Linked DNA regions of Homo sapiens. The protein of the gene in region 2 purifies or fractionates together with the protein of the main gene of each other region. This does not show direct contact. Each region holds a gene or a part of one and is shown on either strand. Other genes may lie near its edges.

Region 1 (7,499 bases), on a different chromosome or scaffold from region 2:
TTTTTACTTGGGACAAGATAGTGATAAATACTGGGAAAGGCTGAGACACTGTTTTAGCAAGTCCTCCAAGACTGCCCTATTTTTAGCTCCATGGCTGTGGAGCTGATTCAGGTCAGGCCTCCGGCAGGCCCAAATCCGTAAGTGTAAAAAGGAAATGGCCTATCTAAATCAGATAATTTGGAGAGAAAGACCAAAATCCTAACTCGAGTCTCCTCCCCGTCTTTAAAAACTGCCACTTAGATTATTTACTTTGATTCCTTCTTAGAAATGATGAGTATTTGTGATTTTATAGGAGAAATTGTTGGCAAAAAATATAAATTATTGGTACACATTTTAAAAGGGAAGCCTGACGCTGGTATTACTTCCTTTTTCCCACACACACACACTTTGCCTTTGGCGATGATGGCTATAACTGTAGCCTACTGAATAACTGAACTTCCCCCAAAGTTCAAGGTCTTCAGCTAAGCTCATCAGACTAAAACTGAGTCACATAACTGGGAAGGGTAGTCCCTTATGCCTAACCTAAACCCCATTACAAAATACAATAAAATGTGTTACCTGATGTAACAAAGAGTTCTTAGTGTAAACTAGCTCTTGCCCCTTTTCTACTTAAAAACAGAGATCCCACTATAATAAAAGAGGCTTCTGTATAATCAAGGCCACCGAGTATCTATGGTATGCACTACGGAAATCAGGCACACCCTTCTGCTTCAATATAAACTAGGACTCAAGATAACTCAAATCCAAGTAAGCGCCAAGCTTCCCTTACCGCCATTTATTTCTACCTCCTTGCTTACCAAACTCTTGCTAGGTCTAACAGTACGTTATAAATACGGGCTGAATTCACTTCCACCTCTTCCCTAGGCTTCTGGAGGTGCTGAGGAGTCCAAGGAAGCAGGACAGACAGAGATTCAGAAAATTCACAAATGGGGCAGACTATTTACCTACTAACAATAAGGACCGGAGGCAGTGGGTGGCTGTGAACATACCCCACAGCAACACTGAAAATGAGAAACGGACAGAGCCTGGTTTGGGGAGCTTTTGGAAGAATTTTTCAATGACAATGTCCGCAACATAAAGCAACGGTTTGTGTCCGTTAAATCAATTTCTTGTTTTAAAGAAAGATTTTACGCTACCTATGGTAAATAAATGGCTTGCCTTTCAATGTTTAAAAATGAGAACAGACTGGCCTCCACATGTTAAGTAAAACATTTACTCACAAATAGAAATTTTAAAAGTTATTTAGCATTCAAAAAAGGTGAGGGAAAAGAAAACAGAAACATCATAAAAACCCCACAGGCGGGTAGGGAGGGGTGTGCAATGGGGTGTGGGGAGCAGGTCCTAGGTCAAAGGAAAGCACATGTGAATCGTCTGAAAGACACACCAGAGCAGAAACTTTTATCCAGCTACTTCGGCAGCTATTTTTCAATATAGGATGGGTTTTGGTGACTGCACACCTACAACACACAGTGTTATATAACATGGAATAAGCTCGCTCAAAAAAAAAAATTCAGAAAAATCTTCCTGAGCAACTGTGTTAGAAAATGGTTTTGAAAAGCTCCAGTTACACGTACCCTTTCTACTACCAACATCAAAACAGGCTTTTTTAAAAAAGTCAGTTCTGTTTAGTATACCTACACAGCCCAGCAGAGCATAATAAAGGGTGGAACCTACTCAAGACAAATCCTTCAAAATATTCTATATTTGTAAAAGGCTGGTTTTCTCAAACGGCAGTTTGCCCATTTGATTCAAGTGACATGGGCGAGCTTGCCTACCCTACATTCCAAAGTCCAGCAGCAAACCAAAATATGTTCCACAAGTAAAGTTTGATCCACCACTTCTAGTAAACACTTGGTTTACTGGAGTGGGGTGAGCGTGGTGCTTCTCAAACGAAGGGAAGGAAGGTGAATGCGGAACAAAAGTAAAAAATATCATGTCGCCAGGTCCCCAGCAATAAATCAACTGTACAAGCTCCGAGCAGGCCTCACAAGTTGTCCTCAACTCATTACCTCTTCATCAGGAGAGAGACACCCCGTTAATTTGCGGGCTTTCGAGTTTCAATTTGCACCTTTCAGACGCAAAGCAGCGTCCCACTCCGGCGTTACAATGGGGCGCTGTGACGACAGCCAGGGCACGCGCAGCCCCGGCCGTGGGCGGCCCGGACAGCCCGCAGCTGCCTCCCCACCCAGACCCGCCGGGCCGTCCCCGCCTCCCCTCGAAGCCCTCCCCGCCCCCCCGCAATTACCTGCTCCGCCACGGCCCGGAACAGGCACGACCCGTCCTTGGCGACCAGTTTCCGATACAAGCCCAGTTTCCGCAGATAGGCGTCCATGGGCGTCGCGTCCTCGCGGGGCCCCGCGCCGCCCTGGTCCCCGCCGTCGGGGACGCCGACGGCAGCCTCCATGTTGCTGGTCCTGCTGCAGGCCAGGCGCGGCGAGGGCTAGCCCCACATGGCCAGGCCGCCGGCTGCTCGACGCCCCGGCCTGGGGCAGGCGGCGGCTCGGGCTGGGGCTCGGGCTCCGCGAGCGGCGGCAGGCGGCGGCGGCCCGAGGCAGCGGTCCGCGCTCTCCGGGCGCATAGGGAAGCCCTGCCTAATGCATGGCTGTCCGCACGCGGCCGCCTCCTCGGAGCGAACACGCGCCCACGACAAACGGGGGGAGCGGGATTAAGGAAAACCCCGAGAGTGAGTAGTCACTTCCCGACGGCCTCGCTGCCTGACTCAGGACCCAGGCCGGGGGTCGCCGCCCCCACAAGTTTCCTCCTCCGTACCGGTGTGAAGCGAGAAAACCCCCGCCCCTGGCGCGCACGCTGGGCCGGCTCAGGTGAAGCGGGGCCTGCGCCCCCGCGCACTCCCCACGCCGGGAGCCGAGGAAACCAAAAAGAAAGACGCGGCCTTTCGTTTCCCCACCTCGCTGGAGGGCGCCGGAGGGGCAGGGAGCGGGTGGGGGCGCCCGGGAGAGAACAGCACCTCGCAGCCCAGAATTTGTTTTCGCTTTCGGCCCGACAGCGGAGAGGACGGCGGGAGATGTAGTCTTGGCAGCCGCAGGAAGTCGGCTTGCGGCGGGCGGGGACGCGCTGGCCGGCCTACCCGGGGGAGGTGCCCGGGAGGCGCGCGGACTACAAGTCCCTACAGCGCGGGCGCGCCGCCGCCACCGCCACCGCCCCAAGCCGGCTTCGCGCTGCACTGGCGCCGCGTCCGCGAGCAGGCCGAGGGGCTCCGCCGGCCGATGTGGGGCGACCTGCGCGCGCCACCCGCCAACCCTGCCGCTGCGCCGCGGGAATCGCGCGCGCCGGGCTGGCGTGGAGTTGCCAGGGACACGGCGGCGCAGTGTCGGCCCTTTGTGTATTTCTTTCCAGAGGGCGCACCTGTCTGCTCCCTTCCCCCCGGCCTGCTCTCCTGGTGTTTCCATGGAGGTGGCTTTAACGGCTTAAGCAGAAAATAGAGCTAATTGGCTGAGGCTCCGGGAACTGGCACGGTGCGGGACGACACACTCTGTCCATAAATCAACCGTGGACTGCTGATTGCTATTAGTAGTACAGCTCACGTACTACGGCAAGATGAAGGCTTTGCCAAAGACATTTTTGTTCACCCTGTCACTGTAGCTGAGCACCCCATCACAGAGACATGTCACTGTCGGAAGACGTTAGGGTTTTTTTTTCCCCCTTAAAAAATTCATCTTGTAAATTGCTTGATAACATGCTGACTGGACTGGCCATGGCTTCCACCAGTGCTCGAGGCTTCAGCTCAACTTCCCACCCTCCGACGTTGAATGGCAGGGAATTGACAAAGTTAAATTATGCTTTAGAACCCAGAATTTATCCAGCATGCTTCTGTTGCACCAAAATTTTATTTTGCTAAGATACAACATCTGGTGTCCTTATTTAAATACATGGTTAATCATAGGAACTAATTCAGTCTTTTAGGCTATGGTGGAGGAGAGGGAGAAGAAAAGGGAGCATTACTATAGGTTTAGACATGTAGTCAAATACCTTGGAATGGGGGGCAAGGCAGGCCAGGTGGTGAGAGTCCAACGACAAAAATTTTTTAAAAACTACGTTAGACACTTTTCAGTATTTTCAGTGCAAGCAATCAGTCATGTATTCACTTTCCTTGGAGCGTCTTTGATTTCTTAATGTTTAAATATTGTATCTCAAATTATGCTGCTTTTAGAGAATACAAACGTTATCGTTACCTAAATGAAAAAATGTCCCTGCCTCAAATTTACTTGTTGTAGCGAAGAAACACTTTGAAATCAGGTTTAGAAAAGTATAGTTTCAGCTGGGCGTGGTGGCTCACGCCTGTAATCCCAGCACTTTGGGAGGCCGAGGCAGCCCGGTCACCTGAGGTCAGGAGTTCGAGACCAGCCTGACCAACATGGAGAAACCCCGTCTCTACTAAAAATACAAAATTAGTCGGGCGTGGTGGCACATGCTACTCGGGAGGCTACTCCCAGCTACTCGGGAGGCTGAGGCAGGAGAATAGCTTGAACCCAGGAGGCAGAGGTTGCGGTGAGCCGAGATCCCAACATTGCATTCCAGCCTGGGCAACAAGAGCGAAACTCCGTCTCAAAAAAAAAAAAAAAAAAACGGAAAAGAAAAATATAGCTTCAAGTCAAACCTGTTGCTTTTCTTTTTAAAATACACTTACATTGCATATACTTCTCATTCTTCTCAAAAAAAAAAAAATTCCTGAGTATTGCCACTACTTAAAACATGGATCGCCCTTGTTTTTGAGTTTAAAAGCTTGCCTTTTAAACTCAAAGAGAAACTCAAAGTAATATCTAAACTCCTGCTGAATGAATGTAGAACAACCTCACTCTAAGCTGGCTGCTTCTGGTTCCAAAATTAGAAGTGATGCACCTGTTATATCTGACCCTGGGCCTGTTTAAGGAAATCCTTTAGGTATTTTGAGACTTAATCCAAGACAGACCCTCTGTATGCCAACTTCCCAAATATAGCTCAGCGTTAAGGCAATATTAGAGGATCCTATGTCTTTAAACTGCACCAAAACTTAGAGAAACTCACTTAACTTTCAAAGGATCTTTGCTTGTTGACATTAACTTCTGAACCTTTTCAAGAAACCAAACCAGAGTTGATGAATGTTTATTCTAAGGAAGCCATTTCTGACTGTGTGAAGAACTCTAAACAGACATCATTTTAATCAAATAATACCTGAAAGATTCAATGCTTTTGAGACCTAATGAAATTATAAAATTAAACTTATGCAAAGGAGTCAACCAACTTTTTTCTTCTTGTGCAAAGTCAATGCCTTAAGTTTGTTTACTCTGACAAACTTTAGGGCTAATAATTGTACTAGATAGAATTTTTTAAATTGTTTTTAAACTTCATAGATTGATAGATTTTATGGAGTTTTGTTTTTTCCAACAATACCTAAGGTTAGGTATTGTAGTAGGCAGCCTCTAAAATGCCCCACTCCCGACCCCCACCAAGTGATTCCCACTTCCTGGTATTCACACTCATATAATCACCTCCACCTTGTAACAGGATTGGTCTGAGTGACCAATAGAATAGAGCAAAAGTAGTGGTATGTCACTTCTGAGATTAGGTTATAAGAGACATTTTTGGCATTTTGATTGGCCTCTCATACTCCCTGTCTCATGGGTCACTCATGCTGGTGGAACCTGGCTGCTATGTGTCAGATTTACAGAGAGGTTCCCCTTGTAAGAAACTGGAGCCTGCTTTCCTCCAGCAGTCATGTGAGTCAGCTTTGAAGCGAATCCTCCAGCCCAGTCAGGTTTTCAGACAACTCCAGCGTTGGCCAAAATCTTGACTACAACCTCAGGAGAAACCCTGGCCAGAACTACCCAGATAAGCTCTGAAATTCTTGACCTCAGAAACTGGGTGAGATAGTGTTTATTTTAAGCTCCTAAATTTAGTCGTAATTTGTTACATGGCAATAGATAAATAATACAGATATAATTCTTCATTATTTGTCTTTACTAGATAGAGAATGAATGCATTTTGACAATTCGTGAAAATAATCACTAGTTTAGTATCCGTGGTTGTACCAGTTCTCTGAATTCTAAAGATGAAAAGGTAAGTTATTTTACCAAAGAGTCAAAATAGTAAGTAATAGGATTTCTTTTGAATCTATGAAATCTCTTACAAAAATAGAGTAACCTAAGAATGTCTTTATTGCCACATAGCATTGTTTCATTTTCTACAAAAATTCAAGTAATGGAATCCTACTCAAAAAATGTATTTTATGAAGAAAGACCTGTTTCTTCTGGATCTTATCTGCCAGAGGCTGCTAATTGTCGTTCTCCACTTCCCATTTGATTTCCCCTGAGTTTTTGCTGGGCCCATGGGCACCCAACTTTGGGCTATATCTCCCAGCTACCTTAGAACTAAATGTGACCCTGTGATTGTGTTTAGGTCAATGGGATGTAAGCAGAATTATTTAACTTCCAGCTCATCTCCTTAAAGATGAAGCTTCTTGCCTTCTACTCTCTGTCCTACTTCCCATGAGCTGCTCTGAAAACATGGTTGAAGGCCGAGTGCGGTAGCTTACGTCTGTAATCCCAGCACTTTGGGAGGCCCAGGCGGGCGGATCAGCTGAGGTCAGGAGTTCAAGACCAGCCTGGCTAAAGTAGTGAAACCCCATCTCTATGAAAAATACAAAATTAGCCAGGCTTGGTGGCGGGCACCTGTAATCCCAGCTACTGTGGAGGCTGAGGCAGGAGAATCACTTGGACCTGGGAGCCGAGATCGCTCAACTGCACTCCAGCCTGGGCAACAGAGTGAGACTCCATCTCAGAAAAAAAAAAAAAAAAATGGTTGAAACTAGTTAGCCAGCTTTGCCGGGCACAGTGGCTCACGCCTGTAATCCCAGCACTTTGGGAGGCCGAGGCAGGCGGATCACGAGGTCTGGAGTTTGAGACCAGCCTGACCAACATGGTGAAATCCTGGCTCTACTAAAAATTCAAAAATTAGCTGGTTGTGGTGGCACACGCCTGTAATCCCGGCTACTCGGGAGGCTGAGGCAGAAGAATCGCTGGAAACCGAGAGGCGGAGGTTGCAGCGAGCCAAGATCCGGCCATTGCACTTCAGCCTGGGTGGGCAACAGAGGGAGATTCCGTCTCAAAAAAAAAAAACAAAAAACGAAACTAGTTACCCAGCTTTGATCATGCAAAGACAACACCGTAAGATAACAGAGCAATGAGATGGAGGACTGAGCTCCTGAATACTTCATAGCCTGTGATCCTTGAACCAGTCCTCTCCAGACTGTGAGAAATAAACTTATTTTACCAACCGTTGCTGCTGTTGTTATTATAGCTACTTAGTCTATGTATTCTAGCACATTTCCCCCTCAAATATTAAATAAGTGATAACATTTGGGACAAATTAAATTTATTTATAAGAGTTTCTGAGTTGAGCAGAACATAATTCTTTTTTTTTTTCTTTTGAGACAGAGTCTGTCACCCAGGCTGGAGTGCAGTGGCACCATCACGGCTCACCTCCCCAGGCTCAGGTGATCT
Region 2 (8,019 bases):
TATTCCCAAGGAGCACGGAGTCCTGTCCTGGTGCGGTAACCTGGCCAGTGTCATCAGATACTTCCCCCACCCAGGCTCTTAACTTCACCTTCAAAGATAAATACAAGCAGATCTTCCTGGATGGTGTGGACAAGAGATCCCAGTTTTGGCGCTACTTTGCAGGGAATCTGGCATCAGGCGGTGCCACTGGGGCCACATCCTTGTGTTTTGTGTACCCTCTTGATTTTGCCCATACTCGTGTAGCAGCTGATGTGGGCAAAGCTGGAGCTGAAAGGGAATTGCGAGGTTTCGGTGACTGCCTAGTTAAGATCTACAAATCTGACGGGATTAAGAGCCTGTACCAAGGCTTTAACGTGTCTGTGCAGGGTATTATCTACCGAGCTGCCTGCTGCCTACTTCGGTAACTATGACACTGCAAAGGGAATGCTTCCGGATCCCAAGAACACTCACATTGTCATCAGTTGGATGATGCACAGACTGTCACTGCCGTTGCTGGGTTGACTTCCTATTCATTTAACACCATTTGCTGCTACATGATGATGCAGTCAGGATGCAAAGGAACTGACATCATGTACACAGGCACATTTGACTGCTGGAGGAAGATTACTCATGATGAAGGAAGCAAAGCTGTTTTCAAGGGTGCATGGTCCAGTGTTCTCAGAGGCATGGGTGGTGCTTTTGTGCTTGTCTTGTATGATGAAACCAAGAAGTACATGTAAGTTATTTCCTAAGATTTTTCCCCCTTTGAACAGGCATGTTGTATTATATGACATATCTTGAGCATTCTTTTTTTTTGAGACGGAGTCTCCCTCTATTGCCCAGGGTGGAGTGCAGTGGCACAATCTCGGCTCACTGCAACCTCCACCTTTTGGTGGAGCAATTCTCCTGCCTCAACCTTTTGGTTCACCTTTTGGGTGATTCACCTTTTGGGTTCAAGCAATTCTCCTGCCTCAACCTCCTGAGTAGCTGGGACTACAGACATCCGCCACCACTCCCGGCTGTTTTTTTTTTTTTTGTATTTTTAGTAGAGATGGGGTTTCAACATATTGGCCAGGCTGCTCCTGAACTCCCGATCTTGTGATCCACCCACCTGGGCCTCCCAAAGTGCTGGGATTACAGGCGTGGGCCACCGCGCCCGGCTATCTTGAGCATTCTTGACAGACTCCTCGCTGTCAATTTATCAGTGGCAACTATTCACTGGTTGGAAATGGGAAGCAATAATAGTCATCTGACCAGTTTTCTCTTAAAGCCATTTCTATGATGATGATGATGATGGGACTCAATTATGTTTTTTATTTCAGTCACTCCTAATAAATAACAAATTTGGAGAAATAAAAATATCTTAAGAAAAGAAAAAAGAAAAGAAAAGAAAGGCTTCACACCATGGAATGACAAGTGCTCAAATGGCTCTCAGTAAGTGCTCACGGGGACACCACTGTCAGAGTGGTGAGCAATCATCTACCACAAAATGGAACAAAGCAGCAGAGGTACGTAGGAAGCAGGTGAGAACATACAACCTCTAAGGCCCATATAAATCTGTCAAGAAAACTTTCTGGAGGAAGGAAAGATAGAAGAAAGACCTGGATATCAGCATTTGGTAACGTCTACTTCGATCTTCCTGACAACTACATTCAAACTGACCTGAGTGTGCTGGCCCCAAGCACATCATCCAGCTTGAGTTTCAATGCTGGTTGGGAGAAAAGGAAATTGAGGGCAAGTCAGAGCCCAGAAAGGAGCGCAATTTAGAACTGCACAGCGGGGGAGACTGAGTTTGAGTGTAGGAAACGGGAAAGGGGGCGTGTGGGGTAAAGAGGTGAGCGCAGTGGAGTCAGGCCTTAGTGAACAAGTGTGCTTGAAGGTGGAGATGGGCACCCCTCTGGCTGAGTCTGCTCCAGTAGAGAGCTCAGGGGCCAGCAGCAGGCACCGCAAGGAGCAAAGCAACTGGTGTAAGCCCCACAGCTTCCTGCGACCAACAGTGCTTTGTTGTGCCCAGGCATCTGTTCAGTCCCATCTTTTATTTTAAGACAGGATCTGGCTCTGTTACCCAGGCTGGAGTGCAGTGGTACAATCTGAGCTCACTGCAGCCCAAACTCCTGGGTTCAAGCAATCCTCTTACCATCGCCTCCCAAGCAGCTGGGATTATGGGTGCACACCACCATGGCCCACTAATTTTCTACTTTTTGTAGAGATGGGGTCTCACTATGTTGCCCAGTCTTGTCTCAAACTCCTGGGCCACCTCAGCTTCCCAAACTGTTGGGATAAGAGGCATGAGCCACTGCACCTGGCCTCAATTTTTTCAATTTTGTTTTTAAAAGCAGACATCTCCCTGGTTGGAGCAAGGAGGAAACATGGCTTTAGAAAGTTTCCAGGTCCAAGGAGAAGCCCCACAACAGTTTGAGATCTTTCCAGAATGATCCACACTCGACCTCCTCATCCCTCTTACCAAAGAGCGACACCTTGTTCGTGGAAGTAGGAGGAGATACACACCCAGTACCTGTCCTCATCCAACAAAGTCGCAGGCACCCAAGGGCAGCCACGCTGCCACCGAAGGCCCCCGGCTGCTCACAACCGCCGGTCAGCTCCGGCCTCTCTTCGAAGGACACACGCGTCTCGCACCCCCTCCCCGCCCCGCCCTGAGGAGACATGCGTCTGGGCCCCGCGCCTTGAAAAGGCGCATTCCCACCCCCACCCCTCAAACGCGCGAGGCCACGCGTTCCGGCCTCCGCCACCTCCACATGCCGGAACACCAGTGAGGGGCGCGCGCTCCCAAAGGTCGGGGGCGGAGCTAAGAGCGCCGCGCCCAAAAAAGGCGGCAAAGTCCCTGACTCGCTGAGAGTTTGCGAGCCGCCATGTCTATCTCATTCGTCTCCTCTCCTCCGACAGCACGCCGTGCTTCCCCTCAGGCACCTTTCACCGTTAGGGATGAGGGCTCCGCGGCGGTTCTCGGTGTGGCTCTGATTCACCGCCATCTTGCTTCGGGCCTCCTGCCGCCCCGTAGATGGAAAGGGGCGGGACCTGCGCCGAGCTGTGGGGCGCGGTTCTGAAGGGGAGGGCGGAGATTATGACGTAAGGAGGAGGAGGAGGAGGAGCGAGACCGGGTCACGTGGTGGGGCAGTGCCCGGGGAGCGGGGCGGAGTCAGGGTAGAGGCCCCCGCCGAGAAAGGGGAGAAAGAGGCGGGCCCTGAGAATTGGCTCGAGCGCGAAGGGGTGAGTGATAGGTGAGTGGCCTCCCGACCTCACCTGCCCCCTTAGCCCCCTGCCTTTAGGTATGGACTTGGGTTGGTCCTGTCAGGAATGATCTCAGCTCACTGCACCTCCAACCTCCCATGCTCAAGCCATCTTCCCACCTCAACCTCCCATCCATTACTCACTTTGGTTATGAAACACTAGAAAATAATGACTGAGGCCCGACCTGACGCCAACTGAAGATGAACTGACCTCACAAAGTGTTTTCATCTCTAATATCTGTGGCTATTTCTTACCAAGAGAGTCTCACCCTCCACACATGGGTGAGATGACATAATGGCTGATTTGGTCAAGGAGCACAAATAAGACAGGCCAGGCAGTTACTGTTCAAACAGCAATGTTTAGTTGTACAACACATAAAGTCTAGCAACAATTACAGGACCAGTTTGAGTGTCTGTTTGCTTGTTTTCAATTGGGAAATTTAACTGTAATGTCACCGTAAGATTGGCTGGGACTGGTAACATTTAAGAAACGGGTTGTTCTTGCATCCCCTAGGCGTGGGCCTCTTGCTCCATCAGGACTTGGTTGTAGATGAATGGCCCACAAGTCACCAGCCTTTGAGCAAGTTGTGTCCAGGTGGAGACAGGAAGAGGGTGGGCAAAGGGGAATTCTATAAAGACACAGTGTGTGGGGCAGTGGCAGTCAACATTCGCAAACATTCATGCATCTGATGGGGGGCTTTGCCCTCCCTTGGGTATTTTCCATTAGCCTACAGTGACCACCTGTGGTCAGGCTAATTCATTACTCACATTAATGGGGAAGGGGGTTGGGGGTAGGAGTAGGTAGGGTAGGTGGGAAGAGATCCCTCTTATTGCTGAGTGGACAGAAGGGTGCTAGTTTTTCCTTAGCGTGTACATATTGTGGGTTTCTGGGGGTTTGTGTGTGTGTTTAGTTTTTGTTTGTTTGTTTGGACAGAAGAAAGTCAACTCCAGCAATGTCTTCTTAGGAAAACCACTCTTCCTCAGTGGCTGCGTTATGAGGTGGGGAGGATGTACAACCGCACTCTGGGACAGCCACAAGTGGTGATTTTTTAAAAAGTGATCCTAGCCCTTGCTCCCCAACATCTGTAGTGACCCACCCTCATGAATATCTTTAAGTAATGAAGGAGACACCCTTGTCCCACTTTGGGGCTCACACAGCTGATCTCAATGAATCTAGTAAGCAGAAAAATTGCTTTCTTGACCCTTTAAGGAAGCCAAGAGTAGCTCATGCAGATGAATGGGTAGGGAGCAATGCCATTGCCCTTAGAGATGGTTACAAGTAGCTGGGATGGGCTTACAAGGGCAGAAGGAGCTCTTGATGAGTTCTTTCACCCTGCAGATGGGCTAGGACCGGCTGACGCAGATGATGCAGTAGGGCTGTACTGGCAGAACCCCACTCCACTGGGAGGAGAGGAGTGGTTTGGATAAATGGAGGATGCAACTGGCCTAAAGAGGCAGCTGGCCCCTCCCACCTACTGAGGGCTGAGAGGGGCTGTGGTGGTGAGCTGGACGAGCACAGCACTAAAAAGGGCTTGGCCCTGCAGCAATAACAGCTGAGAGGAATGGAGTGAGAAGCAGCGCTTGAAATGGCCTTCATTCAGCAGTGGGGCAGGGGGTGGCTGGCACAGGTGGAAGGACAGTGCCCAGGAGGCCTTCTCCCTGCAGGGGGGTTGAGAACGGTTGAGGGTGTGGAGACCAGCAGCTGGCAGCAGACATATAAAATACCTTCTCCAGGGAGGCTCAGATCATGGTTCAGGGGTGCCAGGCACCATTCCTACTCAGCCTTTCCAACGCCCACCTCCCATGCCCATAGATCTTCCCCTGCTGGTCCAAGGTCTCCATACAGGACTGCTTCTACAGTAGCCAAGGATCCCTGTTCTGTTGAAATGTATAACCTCTGGGCTGTAGCGCTGCTGCTGTTCTGTCCTGACAGGTGCCTACCCTGTAACTTTGTGAGCAAGGGAGGATGAGGGCTGGGTTGGCAGCCTCCAGGAAAGACCGAGAGCATAGGTTGGGGTCACTGGTGACCTGATCACCGCCCCCCTTTCTCCTGGTCCATTGAATCTTGGGTCTTGAGTCTATGTTTTTTTTCCTAGCACCTGAGTGATAAAAGACTGGGATTATAAGTGCTGGGATTCATAGAGGACCAGTGAAACACCTAGGCTGAACCAGGAGATGGGACAGAAGGTTGTATGAGGTTATTGTAAACAGTTTCACTTAGTGTTTTCCCTTCCCTAAGGCTAAACTGTTTCCCTGGCCCCGAATTTCATGAATCTTACAGATTAAAGGAAAAGAGTAACTTACTTGTACAACAAGCAGGGGAAATATATGCATTAATAAATACAGGGCTTCAGGGAAAGGCAAGAAAAGCCTAAATGTATGACGGTGGGTATCATTGGGAATGTCTACAGGAGTCAGGAGGAGAGGGAATTAGGGAAAAGTAGAGAAAGACAGACATAAATATGATTAGCTTCAGCACAAAAGTGATGGGGAATAGAAAAGAGAGGTCAAGTATGTATGAAGCAAATGGAGCAACAGAGAAGCCTGCTTAGAAGGGAGAGAAGTCTGACGGAGAAAACGGAGGTGTGGTCAAAAATTTGTCTTTGAAGCCAAATTACTAAGAAAGACAAATTATGTATATTGTTTCTGATACTTCTTTAGAATTAGTTCTAGAACCTGATGTCCCAATAAAAGGTTGTCTCACATGACTAGCATGTGTGCTTCCTTTAACTGGACACTGGGAACTGCATAACTCACTGTGTTTCCCTCTTTACATTGGCTGCCTGTGAGCTCAGGGCCTGTTCAGGTGCTTGACTACAGAAACTTTCTTTCCTATTCCTTTCTTTGACCCAGATTTCTCTGGCAATCTGTTTGTACTGTCCTGTAGTTTTGTGATTTTATGTGAAAGGCAGTCTAAAGTCATTTCTGGAAGTAGACTGGGCATAAATGCTAAATATAGGAATGAACCTAAAGTAGATTCATCTAAAAGGAAGTGAGAGATGTCAGAGACACGCAGGAGAGGGAGAGAAAGCAATGTATGAGGGAAGGAGGGAAAGGGAGAAAGAAGACAAAGTCGGAAGCAGAGACAGGCAGTGGCCTGGCAGCAGAGGCCAGTTGAGTGGAGAGCAGCAGTAGGCTCTGGTGACAGGTGGTAGCTTTGTGACACTGAACACGACACAGACTGAAGGGTGGAGCTCCATTTGTAGGCACTGATGCTTTCTGCAAGAACCCAGCTCTGGCCTACTTCTCTGCCTTCTCATGGCCTTCCTTTTCCCAGGAAGCCCCAGCCTTACCCCCAGACCACCCCCAACTTACAGGAGGGTTGTCCTGAACTCCCTGCCCCCTACTCAGGTCTAGCTCCACTGCCATCTGTCCTTGGAGAATCTCTATAGCCCCAGTTTGTGTGCAGGTTCCGAGAGAAGAGTTGCCTGTGGCTCACCTGCTCCCAGCACTTTTAAATGAAACCTCCCCCAGATCTCCTGAGTGAGGCAAACAGCTTTGTTTTGGGACACAAGGAAAGGAGACAGATAATGGACAGGCATGGAGGAGCCAAACTTACAAGGGACTCTCCAGGGAGGGCAGTGAAAATACCTCACCCCTGCATGCACACACACAGGCTCTCTCGCTCTCTCTCTGTCACACACACACACACACACACACACACACACACACACACAGACAAGATGCTCCACAAATACCAGACAGGCCTGTGGGACAGAGTTGAGAGGAAGAAGGTGGTTGGTGGTGGTATTTGGGATGTGTGTGTGTGAAGTGGGTATGTGTGATGACACAGAGAAGTGGTCGTCATGGGTTACTGTCGTGGCTTTCCTCTGTGTCCACGCTCACCGGAGGGAGGCCTCCATTGTCATTGAGCCGCTTGGCCCTGTAAGTCTCATAGTGGATGTTGTGTGTCACTTCCTTGAGGTCCTGGAGGTGGGTCCTAGAGGACACAGGGTGAGAAGAAGAGGGCTGCAATTAGGGGCAGGAAGAGGAGGCGGTGACACACATCACTTCGAGGGACTGGACCCAGTGAATGGGAACCACTCCCAGGAGCTAAGGATTCTTCTACAGCACCTTCCATTTTGCAACAGGAGCTGGAACTGGGGCAGAAAGCTCTGTCAGAGAGACCTGGAGATGCAGGAGGTGAATCTGAACAGATAGACCCTGACCCCAAATAATTCAACCTGCTGTCTGGACAGCTGGAGGGGAGACATCTTACCTGATGACAAAGTCTCGAAGCAGGGCAAACTCACAGTGGTTGAGGTTTTCCACTATGAACAAAACAAAACAAAGCAAAACAGGTAGTCAGTTCATTAATACAGCAACACCCAGGAGGTGAGCTTCTGTTTGGGTCACGGAGGCATTTAGGAGAAAGCTATGGGACAGGTCATTTTTTGTAACCCTTCCAGAGATTTGCTCACTTGGGTGTACTGGATTTGATTCATTGAACAAATATTAAGCAGCTACAATGGGCACGACATCCTTCTAGACGCTGTGGCATAATAGCCAAGAGGGACTATAATTTTTACCATTTTATAGAAGAGAAAACTAATACCAAGTCTGAGAAACTGGCCAAGGCCTAAGATACACTTCCCATTCTTCAGAAGCTTATAATCCGGTTGGAAGTAACACAGAGAAAATAATAATTGAGCCATTTTAAAAAGGTCATGCACTACATGACAAATCCAATTCAACATATATTGAATACCTAGTATTTGCAAATCATTGGCCAAGCACTGTTGGAACAGAATGAGGATTAAGACATGGGGCCAGGCGCTGTGGCTCATGCCTG

What was found.
Region 1: the proteins of WBP2NL (region 2) and OTUD4 purify together in Homo sapiens (affinity purification with mass spectrometry; 3 studies listed by BioGRID and IntAct, with this or other methods). This does not show direct contact.

The regions. Positions count from the first base shown.
Region 1 is NC_000004.12:145,177,570-145,185,068, forward strand, and holds the start of OTUD4 (OTU domain-containing protein 4), read right to left. Parts: upstream 3,021-7,499; 5' UTR 2,405-3,020; coding exon 2,246-2,404; intron 2,112-2,245; exon of another isoform or gene 2,010-2,111; intron 590-2,009; exon of another isoform or gene 559-589; intron 1-558.
Region 2 is NC_000022.11:41,993,769-42,001,787, reverse strand, and holds the start of WBP2NL (postacrosomal sheath WW domain-binding protein), read right to left. Parts: upstream 3,001-8,019; 5' UTR 2,970-3,000; coding exon 2,908-2,969; exon of another isoform or gene 2,646-2,907; coding exon of another isoform or gene 2,488-2,645; intron 1,356-2,487; exon of another isoform or gene 1,141-1,355; intron 773-1,140; exon of another isoform or gene 1-772. Other genes in the region: SEPTIN3 (neuronal-specific septin-3), read right to left, coding at 4,821-4,886, 7,074-7,167, 7,447-7,498. UniProt on the Homo sapiens protein: May play a role in meiotic resumption and pronuclear formation, mediated by a WW domain-signaling pathway during fertilization.